Regions from separate parts of the Homo sapiens genome. Here region 1 is linked to region 2. A link means that fine-mapping ties the variant in region 2 to the expression of a gene that starts in the linked region. Tissue or cell type: prefrontal cortex. Region 2 holds a variant in brackets; the other region holds the start of a gene. All regions are shown on one strand. Distances are from middle to middle.

Region 1 (8,073 bases), 990 kb after region 2:
TAAAGGGCTTAATAATAATGTTTATTGGCGGGGCGCGTTGGCTCACACCTGTAATCCCAGCATTTTTGGAGGCCAAGGCAGGTGGATCACGAGGTCAAGAGATTGAAACAATCCAGACAAACACGGTGAAACCCCGCCTCTAGTAAAAATTAAAAAAATTAGCTGAGCATGGTGGCACGCACCTGTAGTCCCAGCTACTTGGGAGGCTGAGGCAGGAGAATCACTTGAACCTGGGAGGCGGAGGTTGCAGTGAGCCGAGATTGTGCCACTGCACTCCAGCCTGGCAACAGAGTGATACTCTGTCTCAAAAAATAGATAAATAAATTAAAAAAAGATGTTTATTTTATGTAACTGCCTTGAACACAGAAAAGGAGATTTTATTATAAAACATCTGCAGCTAAAATAGTGACAATATCATTAGAGGTATGTTTTCATATGAGTATGTGTTTAGATGTATTTACTTAAGTGGCTTAAGTAAATTTAAGTCATTGGTAATTTTAACAATGCTTTTTAAATAAGTAGATCTATGTTGACACACTGAGGCCATGTAGAGGAAGTAGAATATTGTCATGGTGGCCAAATAACAAATATTTTTCTTTCCTTTAATATTAGCAATTTTATACAAGTATTTCATTAAAGCAATTTAACTGAATGCAATTTAATTATAGTCCATTTGTATCCAGAATTTAATCAGAGAAGAAAACCATTAGGAGATCAATAGGCAGATCTATACAATTGTTACATGAATCTTACCTTATGCAATTGTGGGAGTTAGTTAAATAGTTTCCGCAAGGTTTTTGTCTTTGCTTGTGGTGCTGGAGCTTGAAGTCCACAAGGAAGGTAGTTGGAAAGGGAAGATGATTGTAAAGTGGGGAAAGTAAAAAAAAATCTAGAGTTAAAATATACAAGCTGGAGCCACAGAACAATAAACTGAAATGCATGCCATTTCTTGTTGCCTCTGACCTTGATGGTATAGGTTAGGTCCGTCAGAAGATGAGTCTCCTCACCGTGGAGTTAAATACAAACACCTGGCCGCAGAGTCAGAAAAGCTGAAGAAATATCAAAGGGAAGGTGCACTAGTTGTAGGTCCACCTCATGCCTCACATCAATAATTTAACCAGACTGACAAAAATATGTGCAAGATATAAAATAGTTGTTGCTTTACTTCCACCCACTAAATCGCCTGCAAGAATCTCTCTTGGCCCACCCTAAGTGGAGATATACAGGGAAGGGTACTCTGGGAAATGTAGCCCAGTACAGCCAAGCTGACATAGTTTGCAGAGCCAGCACAATCCACTCCTTACCAATTTGGCACTCATAAACATCTTAAATCATACTTAGACTACACAAAAGATCATGACAAAGTCAAACTTCCACCTAACATGGTGTATCTCTTCTAAGTACATCTGAAAATAGGCTTTTTTCCTTTTAGTAGAACACAACGTCGTGTTGTTGTTTTTTTGTCTTTGGATGATATTTATTCTTCTCCCAATGCATGCTTCAAGTTGGATATCTTGTAATTTCAAGACTATGATATAAATTTAATTACTATTAATACATCTTTGATAAGAAGAAAGAGAAAGAAAAGGGAGATACTTGGTTAATACAAATACAAACATAGTTATACCAAAATAAGAAATAAGTACTCACACTATTCTAGTCTTGTTTCTATAATTGGTCATGTGGCCATAACTGATGTTTATAGCTACCTTCTTCCCCTACTCATTTCATATTTTCTTTGCACTGAGCTAGCCTCTCAACTGGTCAATGTGGCGTAGTGACACAGTTCTCACTTACTGAAGTATCTGGAAACATCCTGAATTGGGCTGCTATAGTTTTCCACATACTTTAATCACAGGACCTGGGAATACCAACAAACATTCTAGAGGATCTCCCGCATCATAGAAATGCTCCTCTTACTCTGTTTGTGTAGTGGCCACCGAATTTCTCCTGGGTGGTTAGGATCTATAACTCTCTTCTTTGCCCGTTGATTCAGAGGCATGAGGAGCCCAAAGTGTTCAGGTGGCAGTCTCAACTTCCTGTTGAATGGAATCATTGTCATGTCTCCTGGGAGATGCATTCTTCTTTTGGAACCCAGATGTCTAGACCAGCAGAAACTGAAGTGGTAAGGATGGAAGACAAAAATCCAGTTATTGGATTGCTAGGGATAATGTTCAGAGGAAGCATTCTTATTTCTACCCCTTGGTTCCTAGATATGTAAATCCTAGTTGTTAGAGAAACAACGTCATATACCATATGCTGATTTAATGCACATATTTTATCCTGGAGGACATTTTTCTAGCCCTGCATTATGTTGCCACCCAGATGCTGTCATGAATAAGACTTGAAAGGGCCATTTCATCAGTCCATCAAGCTAGCTGCTTCAGCACAATAGAGAATATGATTAGACCAGTAAATTCCATGGGTTTGGGTGTATTGCTGCACTTTATTTGCTGTGAAATGAGTTTCTTGGTCAGAAATGATGCTATGTGGAATATGGTGAATAAGATATCCTGTAAATCTGTGGACAGTTTGAAGATGCACTGCAAGTAAGAAGGCAAATCTATATCCAGATTAATAGCTTGACCAGTGAAAACAAAATGCTGTGCCTACAATGACAGAAGTGGCCCAATGTAATTAACCTGGCAACAGGTAGCTGGCTGATCCTTCAGGAAATGGGGCCATATTGCAGGAATGGCCCCATTCCTGCAATTCGGGGTATTCGGCAATGGCTGTAGCTATATTGGCTTGGGTGAAAGAAAATTCATGTTGGTGATGCCATAGATAACCTTGATTCCTGCCATGATGGCCACTTTATTTATGAGCCCATTATATAATGACTGGAGTGGCTGGGAAGCCAGTAATGAAAGACATATGTAAAGTCAGGGAGATTTAGAAGAAGCTGGAAGCTACAGGCATAGGCTGAAACCCAGTGAGAATTTACATTGAAACCTGTGTATGTTCTCACTGCCTCTGAAATTTTTGGCACGGATGATCTGAAGTAGTTGAAGTTTTTCATCATGAAGTTAAACACACACACTTGGCCCAAGAATCAAAGAAACTGAAGGACAATTTAAGAAAATATAGAGCAGTCTCAGGCCCAGCTGTAGCCTCATGCCAATGAGGTCAGTTGAAAGATCAGCAGCAACATATGTGAGCAACAACATGGTGCCTGTTTTGCTTCCTTTCTCTAAGTCTCACAGAAGAATGTCTTTGTGGTCCATCCTAAACAGAAGCATACAAGAAAGGAAATTCCAGAAAACGAAGTTCAGACTAGCCAAGTTAAACATTACAAAGCCACTTCAAAATGGTAAGAAATGTTAGGTCCCTAGATGATTGAAGTCACTATATATTTTTGGTTTGGAGAACTTTATTATAGACAGAGAAGGGAGAGTTCAGAATTGGAAATCTGGAGAATGGGAGTTTCTGTCATAGTTCAATCATTACCTAAACACACGATCTTTGTGAGTCCTTTATCCTTACCCAGCCTTCATTTCTTTAGTTGTAAAATGAAGCGGATACCCTGGATTATATTTGAAAGGCTTCCCTGTTTAGTAGGTAAAATAATTGTTGGTCAGGATGCTGAGAAACAAATTCTGGTTATACCCCCTTCTGATCCTTGTGCAAGAGCTTGGGCTTTCTGTGCCTCAGTTTCCTCTTCGGTAAACAACAATAGTATTACAGAACTCATAGCAATGTTCTAAGAATTAAATGAGTTAAAATACTTAAAGCTCTTAAAGTCACGAGGAGTATGTAGTCATCACAGATTAAATGTTAGCTAGTGCAGTAGCCACAATTTGCCTGTGAATTTTATAATTTCTTGTCTCCTGTAGAGGTCTAAAAACCATATGCACTGTCTCAAAGTCAGTGCTTTGACTTAGGAATTAGAAGGAAATTACCACAGATCTTGGTAAATTTGTTTTGTCATTGGTAAATTATATGATTTTTCTCTCTTTTTTGATACTGATGCTATTAATAAGGTGCATTGATTATCCATAATGAGGTGGACATGGTACAAATATGCAAATAAAGCAATTATTTAGTGGCCTTAACCAAGGGAGAGTATAACAGGGTATGGAAGGTTATTAATGGTGTAAAGAATGCTGACAAAGGAGCTTTTTCTCTTTAATAACAATGCCTAAAGAAGTGGGTTTCAAGTAATTTAAATAAATAATACTGATATGTATTTGGAGAACTACCAGAAATGATCTTTTGTAGACATAAAGTCTGATCTTAGTTGAATCTTTGATTTCTTTTTACCCACTCACCATTCTCTCCCCTTGTTTCAGTAATCTAAATACCATGTAAGGGCATGTTCTGAAGCCTGCTTACCTACCCTTCTCAAATAGCTGCCTACTGCTCTTGCTCTTGTGAGCTCATTTTCTGCCTTCACTCATGTTCTTACTGAGGGTATATGAGGAAGACCTCATTAAAACAGAATCATTATGTATAAGAAGAAAGAATCATTAAATTTAAAGAAGGAAGCAGAGAAGGGAAGGGGATTTATTGCCTCGCGTAACTAAGAAACCCAGTGGGCATTGTGGCTTCTGACATGACTGCATCTGGAATTTCAAACAATGCATCTGCTTCTCTCTCTGTCTCTCCTCCTCCTCACCTCCCTCATCCACTCATCACTATCCCTCATCCACTCATCACCATCCCTCAGCTTTGATATATTTATTATACATTAGCAGGTTTTTCTATGTGCCAGGAATAGTGGCTTCTAGTAGTTCCAGAGTTTGATTCTTAAAGCTGGTTGGCCCAGAAAAATAGAGTTCATGTATCTCCCTCAATGTCCCTATACTCTAATACAGTCATACAGTCTGCTTTGGTTACCTACCCGCCCATGTGTGTCAATCTGCTTGGGCTGCCATAGCTGAATGCTTCAGTCTGGGTGGCTTAAACAACAGAAATTTATTTTCTCACAGTTCTGGAGGCTCAAAGTCCACGATTAAAGTGCCAGCACAGTTGGTTTCTGGTGAGATCTTTCTTCCTGGCTTGCAGACAGCCACCTTCTCATGGCCTCAAGTCCCTAGTCTAATTCTATTTCTTGATCTCGGTTTTTTTTTACAAATGTTTTTTTTTCTTAGTCACATACTTATTATATTTTGTTTTCTGTATCTGTGTCTGTGTTTTCTGCATCTATGTTTTACCTTACAATAAAAAGGTAACTCTATGGCTAAGTCATGGGATAGCAAGTTTCTAATTTAAAACCATATATACCAATTCTCTTTACAGTAACCAAAGATAGCCAAATCGCCAAGGCTGAGGTTAATGTTGTGGGGAACTGTAATGATCTTACAAGAAAGGTAAAGAATAAATGGGAACAAAAATGGACCTGTTACAAATAGAATGACACAAAACTAACAAAAAGGGGTGGTTACTCAAACTAAAAGAGTAGTGCCAGGACTGCTGAGAAGTAGCTGGCCTCTAGATATATTAATAGGCAAGTCCTGGGAGAACTTGATGATTAATTCCATATGAGTATTGGGAGAAAAGGTTATATATTTCCGAATTGAACTACAAGGTCAATAGTGACATCTTTCAGAGAAAGGGAACAACTGAGGATGTAAAGTAAGGTATAACAAAGTTGGGAAGGGAAGAAGATTATGAGTTCAAGTTAGACAAATTGTCTCTAAGTCACCAGTGATATGTGCAAGAGAAATACCCAAGCAATTTATATAATTAGAGGTTGACAATTCAAGGGAGGAATCCCAGCTATAAATAAATATTTGGAAGATGTCAGCATGTAGAGCACTACTGATCCATTCTCTGGAAAATATGTAGAGTGAGTTGGAAGAAGTATAATAGATTTCTAAGCATAAGAAACATTTAAGGACTGGGCAAAGAAGTAAGAGATCCTCTCCCTCTAAAAGCAGAGATTCTGAGATGAAGAAATTTAATGGTATAAGAAAAATCAGAAAAGTTAATTTGGGGGGGGCAGAGAAGGAAAATAAACATAGCTTAATATTCAGAGAATTCAATTACATAAATCCTAATACATTTTGGCTGAAAAAGGGTTTGCCATTGGCATGTTCATATTTTGATAGAGAAAACAGGCAAAGGTCACTGGTGTTGAGGAAATGGTGAAATAGAAGTTTGGGTGTTGGTTGGGCCTTCTGCATGGATGTTGAAGTCAGCCAGGATGACTGCAGAACATTAGGAAGAGAAGTCTCTCAGCCAAGACCAGAATAATCCGTGCATGGGAGGAGATAGAAGTTAGAAGGAAATATCCCTAGTTGCCTGGCTTTCTCCTACTTCTGCTAACAGCCCTCAACCTCAAGTGTTACTTTTTAGGGAAGTCTCCCCTCAACCCCACAACACTAAGTTGGGCATCCCCTAAAAGTCCCTGTGGTGTCACTTAATTACCCCGTTATATCCTTTAACAACTCTGCACTAAAGTGGAACAGTTGGCTTTCTCTCCATGAGTCTATTCGCTCCTTTAGCTAACTTCAAGACTATGCCTGTTATTTCTCATCTGTTTAGCACTGTACTTGGCACATAAAAGTCTCTTCAAAAATGTTTGTTGATAGAATGAATACATGAAAATATAAATAAACAGGAGGAGTGTGGAGGGGCAGGTTATCAAGGAAGCAGTGGGGTTTACTCAAAGATAGAGGAGTACTGAGGGAGAACAGACTGCAGCTTCTGGCCCCCCTGTAAGAAGTCCAACAATGCCAGGTTTGCTGGTGCTGACAGAAATACCCTAGCCTAAAATTGTGAACTTCGATTATTTCTGTGCACAAAAAATCTAGTAAAACTTAAGCTCCCAAAAAAATAAAAAAGGGTATCACTGGAAAATTCAAGAGAACACATTTTTTTTTTCAGGAAACATAACATGTAAACCCATCCTCTTTTACTCTTCAAAGTTTTTTGAGTAAAACAAGCTGTCAAAAATTAAATAGAATTGTTTTTAGTCTCATTATTTGACATGTTAGGGAAAGGGTATGGAATAAGAAAAGATGGAACATAGTAGAAAAGGGCCAGAAAATAAAGGAAGATAAAGACCTAGGAATAAATAAAAGGATATTGTCTAGTTAGTGAGATCAAACTTGGTATGATAATATTTGCTGACCTTCTATTCTGTACTACACACTACATTCTGTATTTTCACTGAAAATAAGGTTTCTCTGTTTTTAGATTAATCCTGCAAAGTAGGCATTATTATGCATGAGAAAAAGATTTAGAGAATTTATAATTTGTTCAAACAGATAAATGCTGCAATTGGGATTCAAATCTAGCAGCCCCTACCCCGCTTTTCACTACATGGGTGTTACATTGAGGTGTTATCCCTCAAGAATTTGAAATGAAAGACAATGTCTGAAAACTGTGTGAAGAGAGATTCTGTGTGTGTGTGTTTGTGCACATGTACGTGTATATATGTATATGTATGTTTATACATCTATCTATATGTATCTATGTATTTGTGTATCTGTCTATCATCTATAAGAGAGGGATTATTTTTGGTCAGCAAAAAACTCTGTAGACTGAGCAGGCAAGGATTATTGCAAATACTGCCTGTGCCATGTTAAGAGCACCATTTTCAGAATTGTCTCTGGATGGAATAAATCATCATAAGCAGTGGGATTGTACTTTAACTGCTAGTATGAAATTTTTTTAAAGGTCATAATATAATTTGAGAATATAATCTCATTATGGGGCAATATTTCATCCTCATATTTATGGAACAAATATATAAGATTTATTTCCTCTTTTAACTCTACATATGTTAGGTGGTAATATTTTGAGGCCAATGAATTATAGTTTAAAAAAAATAGCAGACTTTAAGATCAGTAGAAATTCCAAATTTAGATTTAAATGTATTTTAAATAAAAGGATCTTTTTTAGAATATGTAACTTTTTAGTGTACAAGATATGTTGTTATGTTTGCTGCAACTTGGGTAAGAAATAAAGATAGCTATAAATCAAGGTAAAATGAAATATATGACCAAGAAGAATTTTAATTATATTATGTAACATTTTTATTGTGTCTTGTTTTGGTCTTACATTTGCTAGAGAATTTTTAATATTTACACTGACATTTTTGAATACAAATTAAACTGCTGAGGAGTT
Region 2 (8,073 bases):
TTTTTCTAATTACTTTAACAGAATTTTTTTGGAGTATTTTTATAATCTATAAAAGATATATCTTCCATGCCAGAGAGTAACCATATCACAATGAAAACATTAGCCTTTCTGACAATTTCAACTTTTTAATCTTTTAGAATTTAGATCAAATTGCTTGAATCGACAGTCTCTACCTAATCCCTCCAAATTCTGGAAGCTTTGCACATTATCGTCTTAGCATTTAATGGAATATAACTACACACAGTGTGGACATAAATTCCAAATACCTATAATTAAAAAGAATAAACGTATTTTTAGGGATGTGCATTCTAATACTCTACCCTAATTACTTCAGAAATTTGCTAAAATATAATAAAATGTTTAGCATGCATTTCCTTCTAGCTTCTCTAAATTACCTAAGATGCCCATTTTGGGAGGTATTTGCATATGAAATATTTATGTTCCTTGAAATCAGTTACTTAGCTAAGGAAAAAAAAAAGCCTGTAATAAAATAAAGTGTTTAAGAGCTGAATAAATGTTTCCTACCCTCTTTGGTCAATCTATTGCAAACAGTGACTTTTAAAAGTTCACCTGACACTATTAATAGAAGTAAGTCAGTCTAAAGTTATCTACAGATTTTTAATGCAACGTTTCAAGCCAAAAAAGTCTTGATTCATCAGGAAAGCCTGAGATTATTAGTATGAAAAGGCTTTACTCACCAAAAAGATCAGTCATTATTATGTAATATTAATATTGATTGGACTTAGAATATCCTGGATTTTAGTGTTAGGAAAGGGTGCTGAGTAATGTAATCAGTGCCCCATAAAATCAGTATCTTTTCCAATTCTCAATTGCATTTGTTTACATACAAAACGGGGTATTCAACTTTATAGATATGATTTAGGTAATTTAATAATGTGTGAATGAGATTTTAGCTCTGCAGTAGAAACAAGGATCTCCTTCAGTCTAGTGCTTGATATGGGTTTTTGTGCTTTAATAAAACAATGTACCGCCGGGCACGGTGGCTCACGCCTGTAATCCCAGCACTTTGGGAGGCCGAGGCGGGCGGATCACGAGGTCAGGAGATCGAGACCATCCCGGCTAACATGGTGAAACCCCATGTCTACTAAAAACACAAAAAATTAGCTGGGCGTGGTGGTGGGCGCCTGTATCCCCAGCTACTCGGGAGGCTGAGGCAGGAGAATGGCATGAACCCGGGAGGCGGAGCTTTCAGTGAGCCGAGATCACGCTACTGCACTCCAGCCTGGGCTACAGAGCGAGACTCCGTCTCAAAAAAAAAAAAAAAAAAAATGCAAGTCCTCACAATGCTATTTTCTAAATTCCTATTAGATTTTTCAAAAGCTTAGAGAAAATTTTGTAAAATGTTTAGATAAGGTAGCTTAACATAAATATTTTTTGTTAGTTTACATTCTGAAGCTATTTCTCTCTTACATATACTATTTAAATGTTTCCTGATTCTTCATAGACAAAGTGCCCTGATATTTGAACTGACAAAGTGTGAAAATAGAAAGAAAAAAATACACACACACACACACACACACACACTTGAATTTTATTAGACGATGTTTTTATACTACTACTGGAAGTTATTTCTTGAGTATTTCTTTAATATTCTCCAAACTTGCAGACAGGAAATATGTATATTATAATATATAACTATAATATAGTATAATAACTTACTATTACATTAATAATATTACATATTTAATATAATATATTATAATATTATATTTGCATATTATAATATGTTAATAATATTACATAAGTATATCTTAGTAGAAATTTCCATGCCGGAAAGCTGACAGCAAATTGAACTCTTCTAAAAGCATGAGAATAATAATCAAATTAATCTTCTGAAAGTATTTTAATCATATCCTTTCATTGTTCCCAAACAATTCATGGATTCTGTTTACCTAAGACAACAAAAGTCAATGGGCATTTAGGTTGATTTCATGTCTTTGCTATTGTGAGTAGTGCAGCAGTGAATAAATGCTTGTATGTCTCTTTATGGTAGAATGATTTATGTTTTTGGGGGAATATATACCATAATGGATTGCTGGGTTGAATGGTAGTTCTATCTTAAGATTTTGAGAAATCAACAAACTGCTTTTTACAGTGGCTGAACTGATTTACATTCCTACCAGCAGTGTATAAGCATTCCTTTTCTGTGCAACCTCACCAGCATCTATCATTTTTGGATAAAGAAAATGTGGTACATATACACCATGGAATACTATGCAGCCATAAAAAAGAATGAGATCATGTCCTTTGCAGCAACATGGATGGAGCTGGAGGCCATTATCCTAAGTGAACTAAGACAGGAACAGAAATCAAATACTACTTTTTCTCACTTATAAGTGGGAGTTAAACATTGAGTACACCTGAGTACAATAAAGGGAACAACAGAAACCAGAGTCTACTTGAGAGAGGAGGGTTTGAGGAGGGTGAGGATCAAAAACCTACTTATCAGGTACTATGCCTTACCTATGTGACGAAATAATCTGTATAACAAACTCCCACGACATGAAATTTACTTATATAACAAACGTGCACATGTAGCCCTGAAGTGAAAATAAAAGTTAAATATAAATAAAATAAACCAAAAGTTCCACCAACTACTTATCCTGAAATTAAAAGCTCTGACAATACATGCTGGATCTCTGTTGGTGAATACTTTTACTGTCATTCTTATACAATTTACACATCTTGTACAATTTATACATCTTGTTTCACTGTAACACTTTTTTCTCACTCCACTTTTCCTTCACTGATTATTTACTTGTGAAATTGTACTTAACATCCAAAGAGCCTGTATAAATGCCAATTTGCGCCCAGGAAGTCTTCCATGATTTTATCCAGAGGCATTTATTTCTCAGGCTTCTAAACTTCCAAAGGGCTTTATCTCTGTCCCTCTCAGTATACTCATTACTTTTATAAATGTTTCATTGTATTTATTTTCATACTGGCCACTAATTTCTTTAGGTAAAGCATGATCAACTCTCATATTCTTCACACTGTTGTGCATAGTAGGTGCTCAGTAAATTACTAACTGGAGCAATGCTATCATAGCAGAAAAGTCATCATGACAGTAACAGAGTAATATATTTTTTTGAGACTGACTCTCATTCTGTCTCCCAGGCTGCAGTGCAGTGGCATGATCTCAGCTCACTGCAACGTCTGCCTCCCAGGTTCAAGCAATTCTCCTGCCTCAGCCGCACGAGTAGCTGGGATTACAGGCGCCCGCCAAAACGCCCGGCTAATTTTTGTGTTTTTAGTAGAGACAGAGTTTCACCATGTTGGCCAGGCTGGTCTTGAACCCCTGACCTCAAGTGATCTGCCCGCCTTGCCCTCCCAAAGTGCTGGGATTACACGCGTGAACCACTGCGCCCGGGGCCAACAGAGTAATTTTTAAGTGTAAAACACTGGATTAACCTCTTTATACTCCCCAGGGAAAAACTAAAGAATACAAAGTATGAAAATCAATTTCTTTCAATCTTAACTATTCTGGATATATGTCTCCCCAAAATTACCACTAAATAATGTAGGAATCATCAACAATAGGATGAAAAATATTTATTTGATTCAAAGTGAGTATGATAACAATGTTTGCTAATTCTATGATAACTCAAAAACTTAAATGTTCTCTACTTTTTTACAGTTTGGAGAAGATTTTTAAAGCAATTTGTATCTTTAAAGAAAAGATCATCAATTTCTGATGCTGTTCACAACCACAAAGCCTGAGAAGGTGAAGGGAATGCCGTTAAATACCACTGAAGCTTAGAAAAAACGTTTCCAGACCTCATTCATTTCCTCTGTCAGTAA[G/C]GAAATACTGTGTTCAGACAATAAGAAAAGAAACCAGTAATAGAAATTGCTGCAAATTCTGTTTGTGTTGATCCTTCAAGTTCAAACCTTTCATTTCATGGGCTGTAGCTGTTAAGAAGAGAGCTGGGGGAGCCCGATTATTCATTTCTATAATTAAAGAGATACCCAGTCATTGAAATATATGCCCTTCTCTGTGACTGACAGCCGCTATGATTGGATGTTAGCAATGGGCCCCGTGGAAGATGAATTCAGGTAATCTCCATTTTTTTTCCTTCTTCTCTCAGAAAGGCCTCAAATTGACACTAATTTTATGGTCTCAAATCCCAGAGTCCCTTGGATACTGAGAATGGAATGTAAAGAAATTCTCCTTGGTGTCAGTCAGTAACTTTCCCTTTTCTTCAGGTTACAAAAGGCGATTGACAGGAAGAGAAGGTCTGCTCACTGCTACAACAGAGATGAACTTGAAAACTGATTGACAGACATCTCCTCTAGACCTTATTTTTTTCTCATTGTGATGATACCAGTGATGATGAAGAATAGATGATACAAGTTCATAGGAAGATAGGTACCTTTAACTGTCATTGTCAAAGTCAGATGGCACAATGGAGACACACCAACCAAAATAAAGCCAGGTCTCACTGAACAGATTTTTCCTTTTCCTCTTATCCATTCACTTAGAAAATTAAGGACAAGGAATTACAGTACAAAGACCCCTCCCTTGTCTGTATTCTAAGAGCCCAGTCCTTCCCCAGAAAATACAGCATTCCCAACCCTTCACACTACACAGGTTGTAAATAAGCAGTAAATATGTGTTGAGTTAAAGAAACTAAAGATACAGAAAATATATTCTCCTTCAAAAACAAAGAAGAGAAATTAACACGAGTTGACTATTTGCAGTGTTTTAGGCACAGTGAATTATATGGATGGCCAGATAGCGGCCACACACATGTGCACACTGTAAGTGCCAGGGACACACAGAGGTGGCCCCCAGAAAAGAATTAGATGCCACAGGTCTCAGTGCACATGGCTTTGCCCTGCTCAGGTGAGTCTCTCTGCGCCTGGCCAGGTCTGGAGCTTGATTTTGTGTTGCCCTACAGTCCATTTAGACTTCTACCATTATCTGGAAAAACTAGCACAATATGTGTGATATGGTTTGGCTGTGTCCCCACCCAAAATCTCATCTTGAATTGTAATCCATATAATCCCCAGGTGTAAAGGAAGAGACCAGGTATAGGTAATTGAATCATGGGGGTGGTTTTCCCCGTGCTGTTCTCGTGATAGTGAGTGAGTTCTCACGAGATCTGATGGTTTTAAAGTGTTTGGTAGTTCCTCTTGCCTTCATTTTCCCTCCTGCCGCCTTGTAAAGGAAGTGCCTTGCTTCCTCTTTGCTTTTCGCCAGGATTGTAAGTTTCCTGAGGCCTCCCCAGCCATGCGGAACAGTGAGTCAATTAAAACCTCTTTCCTTTCTAAATTACCCAGTCTCTGGCAGTTCTTTATAGCAGTGTGATAACGGACTAATACAGCATGCTTCAGGGGATACATCTTCACTATGGGCGGGGCTACCTTCTTACCCAGGGGGAACAGTCAGAGTAAGTGTGCAGACATTACCAATCACTATGTCCAGCGTCCTAGAAAGCAGTTTTCCCCAAATATAGCATTTTTCCAAGGACCAGAAAATCTAAGCAGAAAAACAAATATATTATTAGTAGTTTAAAATCTCAATTCTTTAGCTGGTAGGTAGGAGCATTGTAGGAGAAAACCTGAGTCAGATAAGCTTTGGAATATAAACCATGTGTTGTTCACTGCTCTACCCTCAGCATCCAGAAGACTTCCTAGCACATATCTGGCCTTCAGTTATTTGTTGAACTAATCAATATGCAAAAATATTTAGAATGCTGGGCCTTCTCCCAGATGTTGTTCGGGGATCAGAAAATCCAAACTAGCCCAGAAAGAGAAACTGGGTGCTTCCAGTTTCATACTGCCTTCCATTAATCACATTTCCTACTTGATTGTTCAAGTAGGGACTTTTGTTTAATTAGCAGCAAGCATTGCAAGTTGCTAAAAACACAAGTTCAGCTCACATCCTTGCCCTTTTATCTCTACTACCCCATTCAAATTTACTTTATATGTTCTTTTATTACAGGAGCTTCTGGTTACACCGTCTGAGGAGAGAGGATTCACTGGGAGCTGCCTTTGTCTTGCAGATACCACCCAGGTGCAGTTCCTTAAGAACTTGTGTGTTATTTTCTTTTGTAGAAAATAGCCTGTCAAACCTGCTAAGAGAAAGAGTTCAAGGTCAAGAATAGATTAATCAGCTTTCCAAAGATACTGTCACCCAGCCCATGGATAGTTTATCTTAGCATAGACAAGAACAAGATGTCAGAAGTGCTGAAATGTTGTTCTGCCATCTACCAGCCACACCAGTAGGTGGCCTCGACAAGGGGGAAAAGAAAGGTACCCTTCATTCATTCATTTATTCAACAAATACATATTGAACATTTACCTCATGTAAGGTCTGTGCTATTACCTTGACTAAAGAAGTATTTATACAGTTCCTGCCTTCAAGATGCTCACAGCCTGGGCATAGAGGAATGGAGGTGGCCCGTGATACAATCCTATTTATGGGACAGAAAATGCCGCCCAAAATTGCCAGACAAAAAAATGTGTCCTCTGCCCCATGTAAAAATAAAATTACAAACTATGATTATTAATTATTAAGTTAGTCACAGTAATCTGTGCGAACATCACAAAAATCATAAGTAACAAATATTGCAAAAAATACACCATGCTATATATACCAAAGTTTCTGTTGTAACACCTTTTATCCAAAAACTACTCCTTTGCTCTGTTTTAATGTTGCCACTAAATACCAGTTCTTATTTGTTAAGCATGCCTCAAATGAGGTAATAGAATTATGGCTAGATTATACCACTATTAGTCATTCTGCCCTGGAGAAGGTATTGAGAAGGGTGAATTTCTTCATCCTCTTTTGAATTACTCACTTTGTCATACTCCTATGTCACTCTAACCTTTAAAAAAAGGTGGAGAGCCCAAAATTGCTTGCTTAGACTTAAAATTTCTCACTGACAAATGGCTAAAACTTATGAGATTCGCCTTAAATACTATTTCTTCTCACTCAGAGTAGTTAATAAATAAATCAACGGCAGAAAAGCTCTTTGACAAGTTTCCACCTCTCCATGGTCCAGAATTTTGTCTCATCCTTCATTACAAATAACTAAAATTAGACCTAACCCACTGAAGGGAGTCGGCAATTTCTCCAAAATAGCAGCAGGTAAGAAAAGAAAATCAAAATCCAGTGAACTGAATGCTAGGATTGTTAATATACATGGCCCATGAAAGGGTCCTCAAGTCCACCTTTCTAGAATTCATCTTTCAAGAGAAGGTCATTGCTGGGGTGTATCTTGGATATTGAATAGGAATTAGCCAGGATAAAGAGAACAACAGCAATAAAAAATTAAAAACTGATAAGGAAGGAGAAAGAGCACATGCCATGTAATAATTAACAGCATTTACGTATGACCCAAAGGGAGGAGAAAGCGTGCCACACTCTGGTGAAGCAGGATGGTGGTAGAGTGGATAGGAAGTTAGAAAAGAATGGAGAGAGAAAGATGTTCAATAGGTTTGTATGTAGGAAGGAAGCAAGGTTGGGCAAGATCATATAGAATCTTATAAAACTTTAATATGAAATCTGGGCTTGGCCCATTGAATGGTTACTTAGGAATAATTTTAAGCCAGCTCCTGAGATCTGTGATTCTCAGAGGTCACTGTGACTGCAGCCTGGAGGAAGGAACAGGGATCTGATAAGGTGCCAAGGCTGGAGAAAGGGGAAAGAATCAGAAGGTTCTAACTTTACTGAAGTTAGGTCTGGAAAGAAGCGACAGTCCCAAATATTTAGATGATAGATAAGGTGACCGAAAGAGAGAAATCAAGTATGTGTTCAGGAGGAATGTCAGGTTTTACTGAAGTTTAATAGTCCTCTGTTAGAAAGTGTCTAACTCTAAAAGAAAGTATATTCTTATAGAATATTACATGAATTTTGCTGCACTCACTTCCCAGTAAGGAAGATAAAATAAGCCTGTTTGTAGAATAAAGACTAATAATACTTACCTTTATCATTAAATCCAGTTGCAGAAAAAAGGAGAAGCAAATTAAACATAACCGTATAAAAGAAATTACCTGTTTATTATTTTGCCATGTTTTTGCTATGCATATATTTGTATTTTGTGTGTA

Direction of the effects. Positions count from the first base shown, and alleles are read on the strand shown. Sizes are in standard deviations (SD) of each study's normalised expression.
In carriers of allele C in region 2, the expression in prefrontal cortex of the gene that starts at base 3,791 in region 1 tends to be higher than with G alone (moderate effect, 0.47 SD a copy in CommonMind).

The links. PIP is the estimated chance that this variant, and not a neighbour inherited with it, causes the effect.
Region 1: LINC01938 starts here. The variant in region 2 is fine-mapped to the expression of LINC01938 in prefrontal cortex (CommonMind, PIP 0.95).

What each region holds. Positions count from the first base shown.
Region 1 is chr5:165,239,709-165,247,781 of GRCh38, forward strand. It overlaps LINC01938 (long intergenic non-protein coding RNA 1938), which reads right to left and starts at 3,791. Exons shown (of 5, transcript NR_183276.1): 1 at 3,448-3,791; 2 at 1,921-2,117; 3 at 964-1,049; 4 at 754-821.
Region 2 is chr5:164,249,781-164,257,853 of GRCh38, forward strand. No RefSeq gene overlaps it. Among named protein-coding and RNA genes, the nearest start is that of LINC03000, 43 kb to the right of the region's middle. The variant G/C (reference allele first, on the strand shown) is at 3,823.